Linked DNA regions of Homo sapiens. The protein of the gene in region 3 purifies or fractionates together with the protein of the main gene of each other region. This does not show direct contact. Each region holds a gene or a part of one and is shown on either strand. Other genes may lie near its edges. The genes, in order: HEATR6, QSER1, CTSC, ANKMY2 and RAB11FIP1.

The links.
Region 1: the proteins of CTSC (region 3) and HEATR6 fractionate together in Homo sapiens (co-fractionation; one large-scale study listed by BioGRID). This does not show direct contact.
Region 2: the proteins of CTSC (region 3) and QSER1 fractionate together in Homo sapiens (co-fractionation; one large-scale study listed by BioGRID). This does not show direct contact.
Region 4: the proteins of CTSC (region 3) and ANKMY2 fractionate together in Homo sapiens (co-fractionation; one large-scale study listed by BioGRID). This does not show direct contact.
Region 5: the proteins of CTSC (region 3) and RAB11FIP1 fractionate together in Homo sapiens (co-fractionation; one large-scale study listed by BioGRID). This does not show direct contact.

The regions. Positions count from the first base shown.
Region 1 is NC_000017.11:60,043,618-60,048,426, forward strand, and holds part of HEATR6 (HEAT repeat-containing protein 6), read right to left. Parts: intron 4,772-4,809; coding exon 4,647-4,771; intron 3,789-4,646; coding exon 3,692-3,788; intron 2,613-3,691; coding exon 2,408-2,612; intron 518-2,407; coding exon 1-517. UniProt on the Homo sapiens protein: Amplification-dependent oncogene.
Region 2 is NC_000011.10:32,930,034-32,934,842, reverse strand, and holds part of QSER1 (glutamine and serine-rich protein 1), read right to left. Parts: intron 3,101-4,809; coding exon 1-3,100. UniProt on the Homo sapiens protein: Plays an essential role in the protection and maintenance of transcriptional and developmental programs.
Region 3 is NC_000011.10:88,306,528-88,311,336, reverse strand, and holds part of CTSC (dipeptidyl peptidase 1 isoform a preproprotein), read left to right. Parts: intron 1-2,018; coding exon 2,019-2,174; intron 2,175-4,809. UniProt on the Homo sapiens protein: Thiol protease. Has dipeptidylpeptidase activity. Active against a broad range of dipeptide substrates composed of both polar and hydrophobic amino acids. Proline cannot occupy the P1 position and arginine cannot occupy the P2 position of the substrate.
Region 4 is NC_000007.14:16,607,557-16,611,454, forward strand, and holds part of ANKMY2 (ankyrin repeat and MYND domain-containing protein 2), read right to left. Parts: intron 3,208-3,898; coding exon 2,993-3,207; intron 2,210-2,992; coding exon 2,074-2,209; intron 1-2,073. UniProt on the Homo sapiens protein: May be involved in the trafficking of signaling proteins to the cilia.
Region 5 is NC_000008.11:37,871,233-37,876,041, reverse strand, and holds part of RAB11FIP1 (rab11 family-interacting protein 1), read left to right. Parts: intron 1-719; coding exon 720-1,527; intron 1,528-2,862; coding exon 2,863-4,764; coding exon of another isoform or gene 4,765-4,768; intron 4,769-4,809. UniProt on the Homo sapiens protein: A Rab11 effector protein involved in the endosomal recycling process. Also involved in controlling membrane trafficking along the phagocytic pathway and in phagocytosis. Interaction with RAB14 may function in the process of neurite formation.

The DNA.
Region 1 (4,809 bases), on a different chromosome or scaffold from region 3:
ACGGCCAGGATCTCTTCTAAAAAGCCCATGATGGCCCTTCTGGCTGTGTCTCCAGTTGGTGCCTGGATGCTGCCCATGTGTTTAAGGGCCATTCTGACCATCTGGTCTCTTTCCTGTGGGCTGTGGGGTGCTCCAGTGTCATCTCCCTCTGCTCCTGATTTTAAAAACTGTAGAATATAGGACTGGACCATATTCCCACTCAGTTCAAGGGTTTCTTTCATACAAGGGAGGTCCGAGGCACTGGCCAAGCTCAAGAGGTGAATCAGTGCCTGGCAGATTTGGGTCCGTAGGCTGACACAGTACTTGAATTCCAAAAAGTCTATGGTGTCTTCACTCTTCTGTAAAGCGGTGACCAATGCATTCCAGATCCGAGCATACTGGTCAACAGACCCGTACTGCTCTCTCTTCCCCGGGACGGAAAGGGCAGCTGCAGATCTGATGCGCACTTTGAAGTTCTTGCATGATGTCACGACCGATGTCAGGGCATTGTAGGCCTGGGAGGTCCATGGGGCTGTCCCTAGAAAGAATCCACAGTCACTAAAACAAATGCAGGCTTAGAACTAGGTGGGGTGAGAGGGAGAGGGGTGGAAGGAAGCTTAAACACTAGTGCTCAAGACACTCATTTTATGTGTTCACTTCATTCTCACAATCATCCTGTAAGACAAGGGTGGTGACTGACTGTAGGATCCTAGGTAAGTGGCCAGGTGCCAATCCCCAAACCTCCCTCTTTCCCTACCTCAGCCTGCCACACGCTTAGAGCCTCTGCTACCCAATATAAAGCCTTTGGTGACTCAGAAAAAGGCTTCTTCTCTGGGAGGATTCTGTCCCGTTGGGGTATGGCTTTGTGGGCAGAGCGTGGACTGAACTGCAACCCCACCTATCCTCTCAGCTGGGCACTTCTGAGCTGTGTGCAAGCCACACACTGCATGCTCACCTGCAACAGCATCCAGACACTGCTCTGGCCATAGCCAGTCATGCATTTTATTGCAAAGAAAAAGAAAACTTACAATTTCAAGAATAAGATGCCCAGATTTCTATCTTTTCTCCACACCTGTAGGCCCTAGGAAATCAGCCTGCTTTCCTCCTTACCAGAGCTACTGCTACCCACTCCACTTTGGGGTGTCCTTACTCAAGATGGGTGACAGAGTAGAATGCAGCTTCTCTTAACTCTCCCAGCCCTTCCTGGCTTCTCTGTTGCCTCTGAAGACCGGCAAGCAGGCCCTTTCCATTTGGTGGATGCCAGTGCCATTGACAATGGGCCACTGCTAGAGCTATGAGACACTCACAATCCGACCCGTCAGAGTCCTTTATCAGTTTCTAGCTCCCTTTTCTTATGTGGCTCTTGATAGCTCTGCTACTGGATGCTTTCTAGTTCTCAAACTTCCTGCCTCTTTGGAGCTTCCCTTTCCCTCCAAGTCATGCAGGTAAACTTCTCTCTCTAGTAGGCTGAGGGCAAGGGCCATACAGGAAGGCTGGTAGGAGCCAACCACCACTGAGGTGCCCTGGTTTCAAGGACTTCTTGGCTCTCCAGAAGGCGGATAACCACCTCAATGGGCTCCAACCCAAAAGGTCACCCTTAGGTGACTTCCTCAATGGAAGAAGCCGGGAAGCTACCTTACATACTCCCAGCTGACTGGTCTGCCTGGACGCTCTGGGCAATAAAGGGGAGCAGAGCCAGACTCCCCTCACTTGATGTGTGCTCTCCTCTCCAGGAACACATCCTTAGGTCTCAGATCTGAGAGAGAGAGATGCAATAAAGCGAACGCTGGCATTCAAAGTGAGCGAGGTTTGGAGGCTCCGATCCATACACCTAAGCAGCTACTGGTCCTGAATGACATATCAAGGTGCATGGCATGCCACTACTTAGAGACAGATGCCCTCCTTACATTTATTAATGGCATCCACTTCTGTACACAGCTCATAGGGGATTTCCAGTTTATATTCCCTCTCATTCCAGTTTTTTTCCTTCCTGTTTTCTTGACCATTAAAGTAATATATGCTTATTGTAGACAACTGAGAAAATGAAAACAGAAAAAATCCTACCCATCCAGAGGCAATCACTGTTAATAATTAGTCCAATTTCCTTTCAGTCTTTTTTCTACCCATCTATTGAGATCATTCTGTAGAAATTATTTAATACCTGCTTTCATTTGTTTAACATCAGAAGTATTTTTCCAGATTATCAAATTCTTGTAAGTAATTTTAAATGGCAACAAAATATCCCATTATATATCCCATTGTATAGGTAATGATGTATTTCAATGTCCCCCTAAACTTGTCTTCAGTATGTCTCCATTTTTTCCTAATACTATGACAAATAACATGTGACAAACATCTTTAACAACAACGTAGATTGGTGTGTGTCCCAAGAGGCTTTCCACCAGGGAGTGAAGGGAAACTTTCTTACCTAAAGGAAGGGCAGGATTTTTAAATACATTTCCCATTGCATAACAAGCATTCCATCGGACTTTCATGGCAGCTTCTGTTAGAACAGTAGAAATTAGGGCCTGGATAGACTCCTCAATGATTTCTGCAAATGTGGGTTTTTCTATATGAGAGGGTTGCAGAAAATGAAGCAAATTTCCAAGGGCCCGGACTGCATTGCTTTTTACCTAGAAAAAATGTAAATGCTTTAGAAATCTGTTTGGCCAAAGAGATGTTTCCAAAAGTCTAATTTCAGCTTTAAAAAAACCCAGGAGGTCTTCAACTTCTTAAAGCAAGTCCTTGGAACTCACAAGGTCTGCTCTGGTTAACATCCTGAGCCATCAGAAATGTGAGGTTCTACAGAACTCCTCTCTCTGATTATTTATTTATTTATTTTATTTAGTGCTAGACAGGACCTCAGAGAGGTCCATCTTCCTTGTTTTACTGAGATGGAGTATAAGGACCGGGAACAACAGGACAAGGCTGATTGATAGCAAGACAATGAGGAGAAGCTAGGTTCCATAATTCCAGTCCAATACTTTTCTACTAGACTAGAGTCTCAACCTCTGCAGCCCATCAGAATCATTTGGGGAGGTTTCTCCTTTTGTTTTAAAACCGATTCGGAGGCCCTAACCTCAGAATTTCTGATTGAATTACTCTGAGGTAGGGCTTCCTGGGTGATTACCAGATTTTCAGAAGTAGTATTAAAGTGAGCACATGGTATGGGTCAGGTACTGTGCTAGGTGCTTTAACATAAGGCATCTTCATATCCAGTGAGGTATATAACTTCCATGTTACATGTGAGGAGCTGACCTTCAGAGAAGTTATGTAATATACCAAACTTACCCAGTTACTAAAGGGCGAGCCAGGGCTTGAATCCATGTATGTCTGACCTAAAGCCCAGACATGTGCTTTTTAAACTTATTAGTTTAACAGGTAATATTCAAAGCCAAGAGCTACTCATCTTTCTGACTTGTCAATTTTTTTTTTTTGGAAAATAAAAAAAAGTTAATTTTAAAAGGAATCTGAATATGTCATGTAGTATTACAATGGGCACTGATATTTTTCAGGAGGCAGGAGACAGTAAAGAAACCATACACGTGTGGAATGGGCCATTTATACCCTGAGCACACCCTCAGTCTCTTTTGAACAGGAGTACATTTGGTGGGACAGTCTGAGGAACATCAAGCCACACTGAACTACCACACTGCAGCTACAATACATTAACTATCTGTTTGGGAGATACTGGGTTTTGTTGTGAGTCTACCTTGTCTTTATCCTTGGATGCTTCTATAGCTGATCGTAACATTTTCAAGAGCAGGAGACCAGAGAACTCTTCCTGGAAACTTGGGTCTGGTGTTTCCCTGTTCCACCCAAAGCAGACAACACATGTTAAAAGGTAAATACACTTAAATATATACATATAGAAATATATTCAATTAGTATAAGCCTAAAAGTTTAGGAAAACAGTTTAACAAATCTGCTTAGATTATATCAAGAAACTTACATTATATATCTTTTGACCCAATAGTTCCCCACATAGGAATGTCTCAAAAAAAAAAAAATCTCAAAATGCAGATTTCATGCACAAAAATATTCCCTGAATATAAAAGCCTACAAGCCTAAAGACTAAAACAAATGTTCAGTAATAGAAAAATGGTTAATCATCACACAGTGATAATTATGTAATCATAAATAAGGATTTCTAACAAGTCAATAATAGAATGCTTACACATTTTACATGTTGCTTATACGCTGAAGTGACAAAAAGCAGGACACGTGCACATGAATAACCAGCTACCTCTGGGGAGGGGAACTAAGGTGTCAGGGTAGAAGAAAGGCTTCACACTGAATGCTGCTTTGTACTATCTGGATTTTTTTTAGCCTGTGAATATACTACTTTAAGAAATTTTTTTAAATGCATTTTAAAAGTACAGTAACCATTACTAAGGTTTTGCTTTTATGTTTTCTATAATGTAGACATATTACTTATATCGGCATACAGTATTTTTAATACATATATATCTTAATGCATTCCTAATATATATTAAGAACAGTTTATTAATTTTATTTTCTGAAGGAATATCAAACAAAAAAAGCAGGAAGACTGACTGCATAATATGCGGGAACTACTGCTGATTCTTTCATGGTAGAGATCGAGGACATTCTCTTGGGCCCTCAATCTCAGAAGTCAGCTGGGGAAAGCAAGCTCAGTCACCTACATGTTGACAATCAGAGTGTCTGTCAGGTTGCCCAGGGACCAGGCTGCTTTGGCTCGAACATTCAGAGACTTGTCTTCAAGTGACATCAATATTGCATTTGCTGCGTCTGCAACAAATATGACATCCTGTAACACAAAACAAAACACTGCAGTTACTTTAGCAG
Region 2 (4,809 bases), about 55 Mb from region 3:
AAATCTTGGTTTTCTTCTTCAATCTTGACACTGACTGCATCCCCAGATTGGGCCATGGCCAACAGTGCAAGTGCACTCCTAGCTGGGTTCATTGACACACCACTGTCGTCACCCCCTAAGGTAAATTCACTCTCTGATGTAGCATTCTCTCCACTTATACTTCTACTACTAGAAACAAACTCTTGGTTTCTGTTATTATTTAATGTACTATCAACAGGAGCTTCACTGTCTTCTTCAGATTCAAGATTGGTAGCAGACTGTTTCTTGAATGGGCCAGAACTTTGCTCCTGGACTTCATGACTTGGTCCAACCACTGCTGAAGTTACTTTAGTTGGTATATTTTGACCAGGTGTTTCAATGTGCTGTTGATCAAGAGTCATTTTTGACTGAAGGGCAGGTACTGGTGAAAGGTTCACAGTAACCTGATTTCCATTTAAGGAAGTATCATTTATATTCTGTGGCTTTCCTACTGTAGCTGTCATAGAGTTAAAATCTGAAGTCACATGCCTGACATCTAATGACTGCTGAAAATGAGATTTAGAATCACCATCTTCAACAGCCTGCATGGTTTCATTTGAAGTTGACTTGGAAAAATCAGTAGGTGTAACTCCACAAGCTGCTGCTGTAGCTGCTAAGATATCATCTACATTTGATAAAATATTTCTTTCATCACTAAGAAGCACTGCCTCTGGGAAACACATCGATCCAAGAGAAACAAACTGATTCTTTGAATCATGTTGATTTGTTTCACTAAAATGGCCCTTTGTTGTTAGATGTTGTTGTAATGGTTTTGAAGACTCAGAGAGGTCCATTTTCATAACTTCAGAATTTTGAGGATGGAGTTGCTGCTGAGAATGATCACCATTGCTTTGAATAACATGACCTTCCATCTGAAGGAAGGGATGTACTATTTGTTGAGGGCTTTGAACACGCTGTGCTTGTAAAGATGCCTTTACTTGACCTAAACCTGCCTGCAGTATTGACTGCTGAAGAATTTGTAAATCACAGGCAGAATCTAAAAGGACCTGTGTATTAGGAAGAGATGCCTGATGGCCATGCCCTAAAGCATGATTTGGAATTTGAATCTGAGATGAAGCATTAATTATTTGATCGTGCTGTTCCTGGACCTTGGACTCATGCACCTTAAGTATGAGAGGATGTTGCTGCTTTAAGTCTTTAGTATTCAACCTTATTTGTGGAGTCTGTATTAAATTAGTTGAGTTCTTAAGATCAAGGGTAGCTGCATTATTGACTTGGCCAATTTGTTGGTTAAGTTGTGTCACTGAACCAACAACACTTTCTTCTTTTTTTGATGCTTGCAGAGCAACCCCAATAACTTGATCTTCAAGACGGGAATTACTTCTGATTACACTCTGAGAATATCTGTCATCTGCCTTTGACACCTTATAAGTTGATTCTTGAGCATTAATTTCTCCATCAGATAGCCTTTGGGTTGATGACTCAAGAGATGCTTGTGGCTGCAACACCTGTAACTCTTGCATTGGAAAACCATCTTCTTGCTTTGAAGATGGATACACATCTGAGTCAAGCTTTCTTTCAGCATAAGACTTTGGGTCAGGGGAAGTTATGTTATTTTGTAATGTCTGACAATGAGTAGAGGATGCAAAAGATGATGACTGGACAGCAGGCAAAAACTTCTGGGACTGGGGAGATGATGACTCTTGAGTCTGAACATTTTGGGAAGAATGCATAGAAATATAATTCTGGGTCGGGCTAGAGTCTGGCAAATTCTGAGCCCGAGAGGCAGAAGAATAAGAAAGAGAAGGGGCTGTTAATGTTAGGGACTCCCCTGAAGCATAGCTTTCTGAAAGACTAACAACTGACAAAACTTGTGATTGAGATGAATAGCTAACCTGTGTCTGGCTAACTGGTGATAAACCCTGAGAGTGACCAGATGAGTAACTTTGAGACTGACTTACTGAAGACAGATCTCTTGTTTGAGCAGGGTAATTCTCATTTGTAACTGAAGACAATACCTCTTGCTGATTAGATGAATAATTAAGCGTCTGATTTTCAGGAGTTACAGTCTGAGATGACCCAGAAAAAGTCAATGTTTTATACAAGGGTGGCAATTTCTCAACCTTGCTGGACCTATAAACCTGTGAATGAACAATAGATGGCACATTATGTGGCTGTACTAAACCGTAATTTTGGGACTGACTAACTGATAAAAGGCTTGGTAGCTGCGCTGTAGAATAAATTTGTGCTTGGCCCGATATTACAGAACTCTGATTATGTAAAGGTTTGGAATAGCTTAGTGTTTGCACAGGAGGAATTATACTTTGAGGTTTAGGGGTCTTGGTTGATGTCAGTGGTTGTTCTGTAGAACAGCTTTTTATTTTTGTAGTAGAAGGAGGATACCCTGATGATGGAATCGCAGATGAGTAAGACTGAGCAAGTTCCACTGAGACCTGGGAGGTCTTCTGTTGTAATCCTCCGTTGCTCACCTGAGTGGAATCTCCAATTGGGCTACAGGATAAAGATGACTGCCTGGTTGTTTCCTGAAAATTAACTACACTTGAATTTGATAGATAACTATGTAAGGAGTGCTGTGAACCAGTCAGTTGTGCCTGAATTGACTGGGTACCTGAAGGCCGCTGATGGTGTTTAATAACACTACATTCTCGAAGAAGAGCTCTTTCAATGGAAGCAGTAGAACTAGTAAAGAGAGTTGAACTGTAGGCTTGAGGAGTCTGCTGGGATCCCCCAAGTGCTGAAGGCAACAAACTAAATTGAGGTTGTAAAAGATGGGGTGCAGACTCTTGAGCTGAGCGGTATGTTGAAGACTGAGGTGGTATGCTGTTACTTAATACAGAACTGCCCAGGCGCTCAAATGCCAAAGCAGTTGGAACAGTTCCCTGGGAAGTCTTGATTTGTAGCAAAGGGTCATGATGACTTAAAATTCCATTTGATGTAGTGTTAAAAGTTGAATCCTGAAGCACCAAAGGTGAAGTGGTAGCAAAGTTTCTATTGCTGAAGGTGGTGGGATGCTGATAAGCAGAGAGAGATGGTGGAAGTGTTCCAGTGCTTGGCAAAGGTCCAGTAGCAAACAGCTCAGTTGCTGCTGAGGAATGCATGCCTATGAAGAAAAGGCACAAAGATTTTTATGTAATTATGGCACAATTACTTTATGTTTTCATAGTAATGACTTACATAACCCTCAACTCATCAAAATGTCTTAAGACTGAAAAACCTGACCAGTTAGTTCTGCATGTAAATTTTGAAAATTACATTTCAAAATAGCTAGCTTCTTTCTTTCTTTTCTTTTTTTTTTAAGAGACAGGGTCTTACTCTGTTGCCCAGGCTAGAGTGCAGTCTTGCGATCATAGCTCACTGCAGCCGCAGTGTCCCAAGTAGCTGAGACTACAGGCGCATACTCCCAAACCTGGCTAATTTTTAAATTTTTGTAGAGATGGGGTCTTGCAATGTTGCTCAGGCTATCTTGAACTCCTGGGCTCAAGTGATCCTCCTATCTCGGTCTACCAAAGTGATGGGATTATAGGTGCAAGCCACCACGCCTGGATTAGCTAGTTTTCATAGAGTAAAAATGAAGTTACAATGATATCAGCAATTCATATCTGTAATTGTTATATAATTTATATATAGTTTGATAAGGTCATAGGAAAATGAAGAAATCAGTAAAAATGTACATATCTCTAGTGATTAATTTATCCCAAAGTACCAACACAAAATACCAATGGACAAACCAAAATGTACATAACATTAAAATGGAAAAAAAAAAGCTAAATTGCCTACATCTAACATGATAAATAAATATAAAAAAACAGTGAACTGCAGTTTCTTTTACCAAAATATATTCACTTTAAAAATCTCTTGCATTTCAAGCTTTCACTTCCTATGAACAACTTCCCAATCATAATAGATGCATGTTTATCATGAAAAGTTGATCAGAAATTAACAAAGTACTGTCAGAAAGAGACTGTTAACATTTCAGGACAGCATTTTAGCCACATATAGCAAAAGTAAAAATGGGTTTACCCTTGTGATCTGAAAGTTCTATAGAAATTTATTCTAAAGAAATGAGTGCATACAAAAATATTTGTACCAGATATTCATTATAGTTATTGTTTACAGTAAGTAGAAACAACAAAAAGTCCATAAACAAGGGATCAATCAAATAATTATGGCATACCATAATAATACTATTGCCATAAACATTAAGGTGGATACATATGTTTTGACATAGAAGGATATCCAATAAAAATAACAAACTGTTAATTCCTCTTTGAAAAGTTAGGAACTATCACTTTCCACTTTATATACCTTTTTACTATTTAAATGTTTTATGTGAACCTCCATTAAATTTTTTTTTCATTTTTGGAAAAATGGGGAAAACAATTCTCTGGCTCTTTGAAAAATATTTTCCTACTTTCCATTAAATATCCAAAAAGAATTATTACTACAAAGATAGAAAATATCTAGTGGCACTTGAAAGAATAAATAACACTTAGAAATGTTTAAAATAATACACTGAACTAGAATAGACTTTTGAGATAACATAGTTCAACTCCTTTGTTCTAGCAATTAGGAAACTGGGGTTGACAGGTGATGTGACTTGCTGAGGGTCAAGTGATATTCATGAAACTCTAATCAATTGACTCTACTGCTCTTTACCAGAGATCTCCTATTGTTCTTTTGTGTGTGTTGCGGTGGGGGGTTTAAAACATAATAAGTAAACAGTAATAAAGAACCGACATTTAACTAAATGTAAAGTTACAAATAATGGATTGATTCAGTTTTAGTCGTTATTATGAGGTGTTTTATGTC
Region 3 (4,809 bases):
CAAGATCTAGACTAATTCATCCCCTTCATTTTAAGTTTAGGTTTTAAATAGCTTTGTTTGGCTTGATCCTAGAGCTACACATTTACTTTTAACTTGTTTACTTTGTACCCTATCATTTAGGATATGCTATGTACTATTGTACTCTATTTGATATTTCAAACATTCTCTCATTTAGTGAAGAAGCTCCCAACCGGAGTGCTCAGAACCTACATTGCCTCACCTGTGAAGTGAGCATGTGGGACTGAATTGCCTTTGAGGTCTCTTTCAGCTCTTAATGATCTGTTATCCCATAGTAAGATACATTATTTTTAATCTCGTTGGATCTTAAACACCAAAAATAATAGTATTTAAGACGTAGGATGCTATCTTGTCATTATTTTAATGCACATGTCAACACACGAGGTTTTGCTAGATGTTATGATAAAGCAAGCGAAACAGCAGGCTACTGCTCCTCAAATATCTACAGTCAATGAAATATTGACTGGCGTTGTGGGAAAATATCTCAAAAGTATTTTATTTACAATTTAAAATATATTCTTTTGCCTAAAGAAACAATGAAACAACTATAACTTGTTTTTGTTATTGTGTTAGTGTAGTCATACATATGATACAGTTTTATAATCTGCTTGATAAGGGTACGTCTCTGGGTTTTTCACACTTTGCAACAAGTGGGAAAGAACTTCGACAAAAACATTAAAACATTATCAACCTGGTTGCACGTTTTTCTGATTATTTTCAGTGCTCTTAGGTTTTTAGACCATATCAAAATTCTCTCTCTACACACATGATTTATAAGGGAAAGAAAAGTTTGCAGTATGCCTAAAATGTTCCTCAGGTTAATTATATCTTGTTTTGCATAGTTGAATGTTTATGGAAGTCTTAGATAGTGAGTCACTCTGAAACCACAGACTCTTTTTTAATAGTAATAATATGGTGAGTTCTATAATTCCTAGCATCTAGCACACAGGTATGATAAATGTTTTAATTAAGTGAATAATCAGCTTCCTGAATTTTTCTACTTTGTAAATATGCTCTTTGTGTGTTGAATCTATTTACATATATATCCAAGCATTTGGCACAAGGTAAACCAATGTGGCTCAGATTTTAATGTTATTGTGAATCACTTGGGGATCTTGTTTAAAAAAAAAAAAAAAAAGGAGATTCTGATTCAGGTGATCTGGGCTGAGTACTTACAGTATGCATTTCTAATAAACTTCTGGGTGTTGCTACTGATATTGGTTCAAGAACTAAATTCTGAGTAACAAGTATAAACCGAATGTCCATAAAGTATAATTTCTTTTAGTATCATATGGTTATAATGCTTGCATTTTGTATATATGTTGCATACAGGTTTTGCTTTTCTCTTTTTTCTTATTAAAAAGGTTATAAAGGTACACTGTAGAAACTGTAGGGAGTAGGGGAAAGCTTGGCATCTCATGCCACCATTCAGAGGTAACCATGTTTGGCATTTTAAAAATGCATTTATAGTGTGTGTGTGTGTGTGTGTGTGTGTGTGTGTGTGCGCGCATACATATATATGTATGTATTATACATATACGTTAATATACATATAATATACATATATTACTGTGCAAAAGTTGATAAATTGATTATGATTATGTATAAACTTTGATATCTTCTCATATTTAATATAATATAGTTGTGAGCACTCTTCCATATCATTAAATAACTTTCTAGACATTTTAAATGAATATATAGAAAATGAAACATCATTAATCAGTCCCTTATCTTAGAATATTTATTTCGGTTATTTACAATCTATTAGTAGTTTAAAAGTACTTCATGGAAAATCCTTATACATGCATCTTAGTTAACTTGAACTTTTATTTTTAGAGAAGACATGCCAGGCTGTTCTAGGCTATTGATACATATTGCCAATTACCTTCCTGAAAGATTGTACCACTTTCCACTTAGGCACAGAGTGTGAATGCCTGTTTTAATTACTCTATTTACATCAGTAAAGACTATATCTGAAATTATCTCATTTTTGGGGACAGGTATTCTAATAGGCTCTACAAGTATGATCACAACTTTGTGAAAGCTATCAATGCCATTCAGAAGTCTTGGACTGCAACTACATACATGGAATATGAGACTCTTACCCTGGGAGATATGATTAGGAGAAGTGGTGGCCACAGTCGAAAAATCCCAAGGTAATCAAGCACACATTTTATCATTAATAAAAATATGAATGCTGAATACCATCCTCCCTCCTAAGCAGTCCTACCAGTGTTGCTCGCCATTTTATTGGTCATCCCAGTTGTAACTTTTTATGTGATCTGTTAACGATCTTTATCTCCTATTGATACATATTCTGTCACTCTCCAAGTCCTATTTATGAGTTTTTCTTTCACATGTCTGTTGTTTCCATTGCCCCCTTTCCATTTTCTACACTCTGGCATGCAGCTTTGTCCTGTTTCCCCCATGCTATGGATTAGCCTCCTGCCGGTAACCACCTGAGGGGTTCTTCCTGCCTGCTGCATAAAGAAAAACCATGGCAATATAGTAGAGAAAGAGCTTAAGAGACACTAGGCTGGCCATGCCACGTGGGGGATGGAGTTCATATTCAAATTATCTTGTCCAAAGCTCATAGGTAGGGGTTTTTCAAAGGCAGCTTGGGGGAAGGGGTGGGGGTGGCCAGGTAACAGATGCTTGCTGCTGATTGGTTGGGGTGGGTGAAATCACAGGGAGTTGAAGCTGTCCTCCTGTGGGCTGAATTGCTTCTAGGTGGGGCCATAGGAGTGGGGTTGCTGGGTCCAGGTAGAACCACGGGTGTCAGACATGCAAAAATAAAATAAAATAAAATAAGATAAGGTAAGATAAAATAAAATAAAATAAAATAATAAATAAAATAAATATAAAATTTCCCTGAAAAGATATTTCAAAAAGCCAGTCTTAGATTCTACAATAATGATGTTATTTGCTGGAGTAATTGATGGAGTTGCATGTCTTATAACCTCTGGAATAACGGCTGACAATCTCTCAAGTCTGCGCCTTAGCTGGACTCAGGTTCCTCTTCTCCCCACAGCCTGACTGCCTCCATTAGCTTCACAAAAGTGGTTGGGTTTCAGGGCAAGGCCCATTGTCATTTAAACTGTAGCCGAAATGACTTCCAAAGTTAGCTTGGCCCAATAGCCCAGGAATATTTAAGTGGAAGGCAAGATGGGGGATGGGTTAGCTTAGCTCTCTTTCACTCTCATAGTTTTCTCACTGGTATAATTTTTGCAAAGGCGGTTTCATGCCTGCCATCTCTTTCGTCGCTACCTCTCCCAGTTCCCATTCTTAGCTGTTTTATGAAATGCTTCTAGTTTCATCCTCTTATACCAAGTTCTGGGAGACTGATTTGAGTAATAATAAAACTCCAGTTTCCCATACAGCCGGCTCTGCGTGAATTAAACTCATTTTCTATTGCAATTTCCCTGTCTTGATAATCAGTTCTGTGTAGGCCGTGAGGAAGGAGAACCCGTTGGGTGATTACGAGACTGTGTTACTGCCCACTACCTAATGGATACATTTAGCCTGGTATCCAAACCCATCTAATTATGACCATAACTATATTTATCACCTTGCTCTGCTTTCAAACGATATGACACACAATGAATGAAAACTTTCATTTTTCATCTTCATTTGTGCTGTTCCCTTTGCCTCAAATAGCCCTCAACTTGCCTACAGTAACTGTAAAATTTGCCACCTAAAAAAAAATCTCAAAATCCTCTCTATGCTTTGATGTCCAGCAAAAAAAAAAAAAAAAAAAAAAAAGTTATCAGTATAGCTCTATTACTCTCAACCAGAGGTGGCATTTTTCATCTTTACCCATAAGCCCCATGGTATATTTCTTAGTTTGGGAAATTATATCATAATACTTTGAATCTGTCTAGTCAGAAATTTAGATAATTTAAAAAAAAATTATTTTTCTGAAAGTATAGCTGGATCTAGCTTAGGATCTACATCTATCTAATATAGTTCCTTAACATTTGTTAAATGGCCACGGATAAGTCCTGTAATGCCATACTTTGCTTTAGGATCATGTGACTAAGGGGTAAGGAATTGGAAAGCAATGGGGAGCTAGCAGAATTTGAAAAATTATATAGGTAGGTTATTTTTCCTTAATACATTGAAATAGCCTCAAATTCTCAGAGAATACAATGTTTAATCCTCTAATATCTGTAGAGTTCATGGCTCAAATTTGTATTATTTGAATAAACTACTAATAGATTAATAATTACTCAACTAAAACACTTTGAAATGTGAGAGTTCCCTTATCTCCCTCGCAGGCATATGACAGAGGTGTGGCTTCTCACACCTTTGGTTGCCCTTGCCCTACCACCCAAACCCCTAGGGGGAGCATGCAGAGGGGCAGGTGCAGAGGCCATGGGGGGTGCTTTTGGGCTCTGGCCCCACAGCAGTGTCTAGGAGTGGATGTTGGAGACTCCTGAAGCCCAAGTGGGCATGTGTTACAGTGTGCTCTTTCAGCTTAGCCGTCTGCAGATGGCTTGTGTTAATCAGGTCATTAGACCCCATGCCTTATTGCAAGGGCAGGGGTCCAATGTGACAGCCTAAGTTCTTGCTCAGTGTACCAGAAGAATTGGATCACACGTGGGCTGGAAGGATGAGCACAAGGTTTTATTGAGTGGTGGAGGTGGCTCTCCGCGAGACGACTCTCAGCCAGAGAAGGAGGATGGAGGGGAAAGGTGTTCTTCCCCTGGAGTCCACTTGTTCCTGTTCTCCTCTGGGTTCAAATACCTCTTCCCTCCTTTTCTGCTGTGCTGTCCCACCACTCTCCACAGC
Region 4 (3,898 bases), on a different chromosome or scaffold from region 3:
GACCCCCCTCAATAAATAAATAAAAATAATAATAATTATACTCTATAAACTCTAATTACATTATTCTATTATATGGAGCTAGGATAACTTGTTGACCACAATATTGACCTGCTTTTTTTTTTTTTTTTTTTTTTTAAAGAACTCTGGGTTGCTGTTTTAGTTTTTCTGTTTTTTCCCAGGAAGGTAAAAGGTCAGCAACCATTTGTGAGTGCTGGAAATCCCACATAACAGGTACTGCTAGTTGCTTCTCTGATATCAATTCTCCCAGCTTCCTCAGTAACAGAAGTGTAATTTTGTTCAGAGGAGGAGTGTTTAGAAAAGCCAAAAAAAAAAATTTTCCTGGACTCCTGTGTAGCTAAGGAAAGTCATGTGACACAGGCAGAGGGCTTCTGGGAGAGCTTATGTTTTCCAGATATAGACCCCTTTGCTCTTCCTGCCTGCCTGGGATAGGAATGTGAGCTGGAGGAGGAACATCAAATGCCTCGTAACCATGAGATCATAAGTATGCATATGAGAACCTACACAGCTAAGGAATATTGGAAGGGAAAGATGAGAAAGTGTTTGGGTCCCCAAACTATTTTTAAGTCACTATGCCAGACCTAGTCTGCCTACCTTTGGGCATCTATGTATATGTGAATACATAAACCCTCATCTATTTAATTCATGGTTGGTTGGGCTTTGATATGTGCTGCCAAGACACATTTGTAATTGACAAATCATAATTTGCTAACTTTATTCTTCCAAAAGCATAAACACTAAATAGCCAACTATATTAAAAAGTATGAGTAAAGAAACTCTTGAAAATAGGGGGAGCACACATGAACAAATTAATGCATGAGCTTTATGAGATGGTCTTTTCTGCTCAGGTCTTTCTTGTTTATTTTATGGCTCAGACTAGGTGAATTCTTAATGTACAAAGGAGCATCTGGAGCCCACTTGAAGCCCTGATGTTCCACACTGAGAATGACATAACAACCCAGAGAGAAGGCACAGAGAAGGGAACCAGATTTGCCAGAGGGAGGGAGGAAGCCATGGATGGGACTGGTCTTAGGATCAATTTCTTGCCTGATAGACAAAAGCTGATCAAGTTTTTGATTGAAACGTATAAAAGCATGAATGGGTATAGATAGGGTAAACAAAAACCTATTCAAAATAGAAAAGGTGGCTGGGCGCAGTGGGTCATGCCTGTAATCCCAGCACTTTGGGAAGCCGAGGTGGGTAGATCACCTGAGTCAGGAGTTCGAGACCAACCTGGTCAACATGGTGAAATCCCATCTCTACTAAAAATACAAAAATTAGCTGGGCGTGGTGGCGCGCACCTATAGTCCCAGCCACTCAGGAGGCTGAAGCAGGAGAATCGCTTGAACCTGGGAAATGGAGGTTGCAGTGAGCTGAGATTGTGCCACTGCACTCCAGCCTAGGCGACAGAAACAGACTCTGTCGCAAAATAGAAAAGGCCAAATAAATTAAAATATATGACAAATGAATAGTAAGTCATTTAAATAACAGATAAAGTTAACAAAATACACTTATATAGTGGGTAAGTATAAATAGGTTGTAAGTATGGACATTTTCTAATCAGAGGCATTAAGGTGGATTATAGGAAGCTGAGGCATACTTTGAGATTGTTACCAGGAACCACAATGAGCCTTCCCATGGCTTATCCCACTACATCCCCACTGCCTGGACACTATCCCCCTAGGTGATCAATTCATACTTGCATCTAGTGTATGACTTTGTGCTGATAATTCATATAGCTACAAGTGTACATGTGTGTACCTATATTACATAGTGGATGTACTTAAAATGTAAGTTTCTACCCTAACCATCTACATTTCAACATAGCGACGTCCTGTTTATGAAACTATGAACCATAATAAGGTAAGAAGAGGATCGTGAGATGGGAAATAAATAAACAGGAACAGGTTTGGCAGGCAAACCTATCTCCACCTTTGTTCCTAAAAATATTCTGAAATAATAAAAATAAATATTAAAGAGAACTTGCCTTTAACAATACAATAGGTGGGAATTAGGTTTTACTGATAGAGTCAACTTAGGTAAGAGGAGCCTTACAATTTCAACAGGAGCAATGCTTCGAACCAGCTGCTGGAGGAGTGTAGCTTCACAGTAAGGAAATTTTCTGATACTTTCTCTAATGATCTTTTCTTGATACACTGGAAAGCCATCAGAAGCTCGGCCTTTTAACAAGCTGAAAGATATTTTTTAAAGCGTAATTGGAGTTGAATCACTAAGCATTCTCTCCTAGTTGAACCCAACAGTTTTTAGTAGTTTCTTCTGTTACTTATGATTTTCTTTGTCTCTTCAAATCATGATGACGGGCTCAGTTCAAATTGCTGTTCAACCTATATGTTAGGCTAGGCCTTATAAGGTTTTCCAGCCCATTAAATGAATATGCAAAGGTGACTACCACCATAAAACACACTAAACACTGTTATCAGATTAGCTAGTTACTTATTACCATGTCAGTTATTTGTACTAAGAATGAAAACTCTCATAGAGCCACACCCTTCAGACTTAGTTCCCTTTTCTAGGTAAGGATGCAAGAGAATTTGATCTCTGGTGGTCAGAGAAGCAGCATAACACACAGCTCTCCAAGATACAGTAACAGAGACACCCTGGATGCCATTACAAACCTAGGGCTGCGACCTAGGGCATAAAATATTCTCAAATTTGGACTTGGGCCACTTTCTCGCGGTGTGATCTTACACATGTTATTTAACCTCTCCAAACCTCAGATTCCTCATCTGTAAATTGCTGGTAACAACAAAAACATCACAGTAAAGGATACAGAACTGAATAATCACTCAATATAAGTATAATATTATTCTCTGTTTGTCAAAGACTAAATGTGAGTCCAACAACAGCAATTGCTGCCAAAATGTTTAATTTTGAAACACATAATAATGAGGCTTCATATTAAAAAAAATATTCACTTGAGTGTATTTTATAAACGACATAGTAAAAAGAGTACCTTTTGATCAAGGTGTCCAGTTTATTCTCTCCATCTTTTAAGAAGTTAATGCATTTCTGAAAGATACAGCTTATGTAATGCATCTTCATAGCCAATACTTCATTCATGTCTCTTTGCTTCATACATTTCTCACAAATCAAATCCATCACTCTGTAGCATTTATTCAGGGCTGCTTCTTCTGTCAGCAGAGGATTCTCATTTACAAGCATCACGATCTAGAGGAAATCCCAGTGTACTCAGGTATTAAAGGAGACACTTGTTCATGTACAAATTAGGTAGTCCATTTAGTTGATTTCAAAAGATTACCAAAGAAAGCCTTCCTTAGGATCATGAAGTTATTATGTTATTTGTTAGAATGCAAATTACCCAGAACTTATAGAACTAATATAGAAAGACCCTGAAATAGTGGAATCTCTTGAACTCTGTATATCAAAGTTATAATGTGATCTTCCATCTACCTACACCACAGTGCCAGTATGCCATTCAAGAGCACATGATTTTACAGTCTCTGTTAAATTCACTTTTACTAAAGATAAACATGACAAATTTGTACATTTTACATAAAGAATCAAATCATTGAGCAATAACCACTTTTAGTTAACATTACTCAGCTCTAGAATTTCATGGCTAGGAGAACTACAATTCTCATTAATTCTTATTAAGCACAAGAAAATGAGATTTTTTCAGAATGAAGTCTAAAAATGAAATATGCTTTACTTTCCAATTAACTATATTTCTCTATGGAAATTTTCCTGAAGATGCTTCCAATCATCTACAGTAATGAGAACAGGTCAAAGAGGAAGCCATAAATAACTTTAAAGGGGAAATATTAGAATGATCAAATCTTACACGTTATGAGTCCCACATTTCCTATGTATGCACAGATTATGCTCAAATTTAGTGTAA
Region 5 (4,809 bases), on a different chromosome or scaffold from region 3:
TGTATTTTTAGTAGAGTTGGGGTTTCACCATGTTGACCAGGCTGGTTTTGAACTCCTGACCTCAAGTGATCCACCTGCCTTGGCCTCCCAAAGTGCTGGGATTATACCCTCTGGTTTCTAAGAATGTATAAATTCCTTTTCCAGAGTTCCTGGCTCTATAAATGATGTCCACTAGTACAAGCTTTTAGAGCTAACAGAATGAGTGTCTTCCAAGTTTTTTTTTTCTTTTTTTTAAGGGTAAAACCATGGAACCTTATGGTAATTCTGATATTTCATTAATTCATCAGGTAGTTATTGAGTTCCTGTGATGTGCTCAACCCTCGTGGGATATAGCCTTATCAGAAGCCAAGGAATCTGCTTCCTTTAGCTCTGAGTTAATTATGTATTTTGAACTTCAATTTCAATGTCTAAATCCCTCCCATTGGCCGGATTCTGCTACTCTACCAAGAGTGCTGCCCTTTTCATTGGTTTAACCCAGAGTTTCTCAACCTCAGCACTGTGGACAGTTTAGACTAGACAGGCCTTTGTCGTGGGGGGCTGTGCTATACGTTGTAAGATGTTCAGTATCATCCTTGTCCTCTACCTGCTGGATACGAATAGCAGCACACCCCCTCCAAGTTGTGGCAACCAGAAATGTATCCAGACGTTGACAGATGCCCCTACACTGCAAACCACCCGTTTAACATCTTATCCCCTTTCTGTTCTTTTTCTTCCCAAAGTCATGTCTCACAAGAGAACAGCGAGTACGGATCTTAAGCAACTGAACCAGGTCAACTTTACCCTTCCCAAGAAGGAAGGACTTTCCTTTCTTGGTGGCCTTCGGTCTAAGAATGATGTCCTTTCCCGCTCTAATGTCTGCATCAATGGGAACCATGTTTACCTGGAGCAGCCAGAAGCCAAGGGTGAGATCAAGGATAGCAGCCCGTCCTCCTCCCCATCCCCCAAGGGCTTCAGAAAGAAGCATTTGTTCTCTTCTACAGAGAACCTGGCGGCTGGGTCTTGGAAGGAGCCTGCTGAAGGAGGTGGGCTGTCTTCTGACAGGCAGCTCTCCGAATCTTCCACCAAGGACTCCTTGAAGTCTATGACCCTGCCGTCCTACCGACCTGCCCCACTGGTCAGTGGGGACCTCAGGGAAAACATGGCCCCCGCAAACTCAGAGGCCACAAAAGAAGCTAAGGAGAGCAAGAAGCCAGAGAGCAGGAGGTCCTCTTTGCTGTCTCTGATGACGGGGAAGAAGGATGTGGCTAAGGGCAGTGAAGGTGAAAACCCTCTCACGGTCCCAGGGAGGGAGAAGGAAGGCATGCTGATGGGGGTTAAGCCGGGGGAGGACGCATCGGGGCCTGCTGAAGACCTTGTGAGAAGATCTGAGAAAGATACTGCAGCTGTTGTCTCCAGACAGGGCAGCTCCCTGAACCTCTTTGAAGATGTGCAGATCACAGAACCAGAAGCTGAGCCAGAGTCCAAGTCTGAACCGAGACCTCCAATTTCCTCTCCGAGGGCTCCCCAGACCAGAGCTGTCAAGCCCCGGTGAGTTTTGGCTCTTCTCGTGCAGGGCATTTCTGCCTTGCCATTGGTGGTTTTCAGGCTTACGTTAGACCAGCTCTTGTGGGTCCCATGATATCATAGTACCCATATATGCCAAAGGTTTGCTGGTCTAAATTATTTTTTTAACCAGTCCCTACTGCCAGCCTGGCCTGCCCTGTATAAATTGCAGTGATGTTTCCCAGCTCAGAGCTACTGCCCAGCAGGCATGGTCTGTCCTTTCAGTCAGCTTATCAGATCTCAGTGGAACGCAGTGGTTTGTAGCAGATTGTGGGTGTTGCAAGTTGGGAATACTGAGTTTGGGTTGTAGTGTATGCAGAACCTGTGTTTTCGAAGTTCTTATCTCACATTTCCCTTTGAGCCAGATGTTATCCTGCCTCCTTGCCTTTTGGCATTGGTTTCTGGTATGAGAGACCCTCGGTCCTCTCTCAAGTGACAGTGACGGTTCTTTGTGTCCACTCTGCCCCTTGTTGTAAGAGCCGGCATAAGCCTTGGGGACTGGCCTTGGGGACTTCTGCTTTTCTGTGTGATCACATTCATACTGACAATATTTCTGCGGTCTGGGGAGTGAGATTTTTTTTTTTAGAGATTCTGCTTACTTTGACATGCACACACACACACACACACATATACACACACATACACACTGTTCCTCTTAAACTTATCTGTGCCTGTTGCTTTGTGTTACATCTTTAACCACTTTAAACCTTTTAGGTGCATTTTGTCCTGTAATAATCAAATGCTCGGGCCTTGTGTTAATCACCACAAGAAACCAGAGGCTATTGCTTTACCGGGATCTTTTCATTTCTATTGCAACAGACTTTTGTGTGACGGATCTGCTTGGTTATAAAAGTGTCTGTTGTGTATGTTAAGTGTTAGTGTTCCTTTTTTTTTTTGAGACAGTCTCCCTCTATCGCCCAGGCTGGAGTGCAGTGGCACGATCTCAACTCACTGCAACCTCCACCTCCCAGGTTCAAGCAGTTCTCCTGCCTCAGCCTCCCGAGTAGCTGGGACTACAGGTGCACACCACCACACCCGGCTAATTTTTGCATTTTTCAGTAGAGATGAGGTTTCACCATGTTGGCTGGGCTGGTCTTGAACTCCTGACTTCAGGTGATCCGCCTGCCTCGGCCTCCCACAGTGCTGGGATTACAGGCGTGAGCCACCGCGCCCGGCTAGCGTTCCTTTTTTAACTTCTTAAGGTACTGCCCCACGTGTAAAGACGTTCTCCCCTGGTGAATGACTTGTTTTTGTGTATTTTCTTTGTCTCTCGTGATGCATCTGCACTGACCTGCAGATTTTATTTTGTCCTTTTTGCAGACTGGAAGTGTCTCCAGAGGCGCAACCCACAGCCAGGCTTCCTTCCCCTACTGACTCCCCTTCCTCTCTTCCTCCTCTTCCTTCTAGCTCTGGCCAGGCATCTGTCCCCTCTGAATTGGGACATGGTGCAGACACACAGTCCTCTGAGAGTCCTTCTGTCTTCTCCTCTCTCTCATCTCCCATAGCAGCTCCCATTTCCACATCCACTCCAATTGAAAGCTGGCCTCTCGTAGACAGGGGCCAGGCCAAGTCTGAAGGACCACCCTTGCTCCCTAAGGCAGAGTTGCAAACTGAGAGTTTAACACCGGTTCCAAATTCTGGTTCTTCTGCCCTGGGATCACTTTTCAAACAGCCATCCTTTCCAGCAAATAAAGGGACAGAAGATTCTCTGATGGGCAGGACCCGTGAGACAGGCACAGAGAAGAACACCAGCAGCCTTGAGTTGGAGGAGTCTCTCCCAGAGCAGCCTGAAACAGGGCGACAAGAGGAAGAACTTCCGAGATTCCCCTGCAAAAAACAAGACTACAGCCCATCATCTGGAGAAGCCCAGGAAGTACCGTTTGCCCTTTCACTCAGCAGTGATGGAGCTGTGAGCCCTGTTGGGGAGCTTGCAGCAGGAGGAGACAGAGACTTGGAGAGTCAGGCTGGGTCTCTTGTGGAGAGCAAAGCCAGGGATGCAGCTGAAGAAGTGGCGCCCCCTCTTCCCATGGGAGCATCAGTCCCTTCCATTGATTCCATGATGCGGAAGCTGGAAGAGATGGGTCTGAACCTCCGCAAGGACCAGAAGAAAACCAAGAAGCGTGTGTCATTTTCTGAGCAGCTCTTCACGGAAGAGGCAGTGGCGGGGGCTGCCTTGCTGGTGGAAGGACACAGCAGTTGTCCCCAGGAGCTGAACCCTGCATGGTCTGTTGCTGGAAACGCGTCTGACGGAGAGCCTCCTGAGTCTCCCCACGCAGAGGACTCAGAAAGGGAATCGGTGACCACACCTGGGCCAGCGACGTGTGGTGCGCCAGCCTCCCCAGCGGATCACCTCCTCCTCCCCTCCCAGGAGGAGAGTTTCTCCGAAGTCCCCATGAGTGAAGCAAGCTCAGCGAAAGACACTCCACTCTTTAGGATGGAGGGAGAGGATGCCCTTGTGACTCAGTATCAGAGCAAAGCCAGTGACCACGAAGGTTTATTGTCTGACCCCTTGAGTGACCTTCAGTTGGTCTCAGATTTTAAATCTCCAATCATGGCCGATCTGAACTTAAGCCTTCCTTCCATTCCTGAAGTCGCATCGGATGATGAAAGAATAGATCAGGTTGAAGATGACGGAGATCAGGTTGAAGATGATGGAGAGACAGCAAAGTCGTCAACTCTGGACATAGGAGCTTTGTCCTTGGGCTTGGTAGTCCCCTGTCCTGAGAGGGGAAAGGGGCCCAGTGGCGAGGCAGATAGGTTGGTACTGGGGGAGGGCCTGTGTGATTTCAGGCTGCAAGCACCCCAGGCATCTGTGACAGCTCCTTCAGAGCAGACCACAGAGTTCGGAATTCACAAACCACATCTTGGCAAGAGCTCAAGCTTGGATAAACAGCTGCCAGGCCCCAGTGGTGGTGAGGAAGAAAAACCGATGGGAAATGGGAGTCCAAGCCCGCCTCCTGGCACATCCCTGGACAATCCTGTACCCAGCCCCTCCCCTTCTGAGATCTTTCCTGTCACACACTCTTTCCCCAGCTCTGCACATTCTGACACTCACCACACCAGCACAGCAGAATCTCAAAAAAAAGCCACAGCAGAGGGCTCCGCTGGTAGAGTTGAAAATTTTGGCAAGAGGAAGCCACTCCTCCAGGCCTGGGTCTCACCCTCGGAGACACATCCAGTCTCAGCTCAGCCAGGCGCTGGAACTGGGTCAGCCAAGCACAGGTGAGAGATGGGGGAGATTGTCTATGTAAATGTGAGCAATGTCCC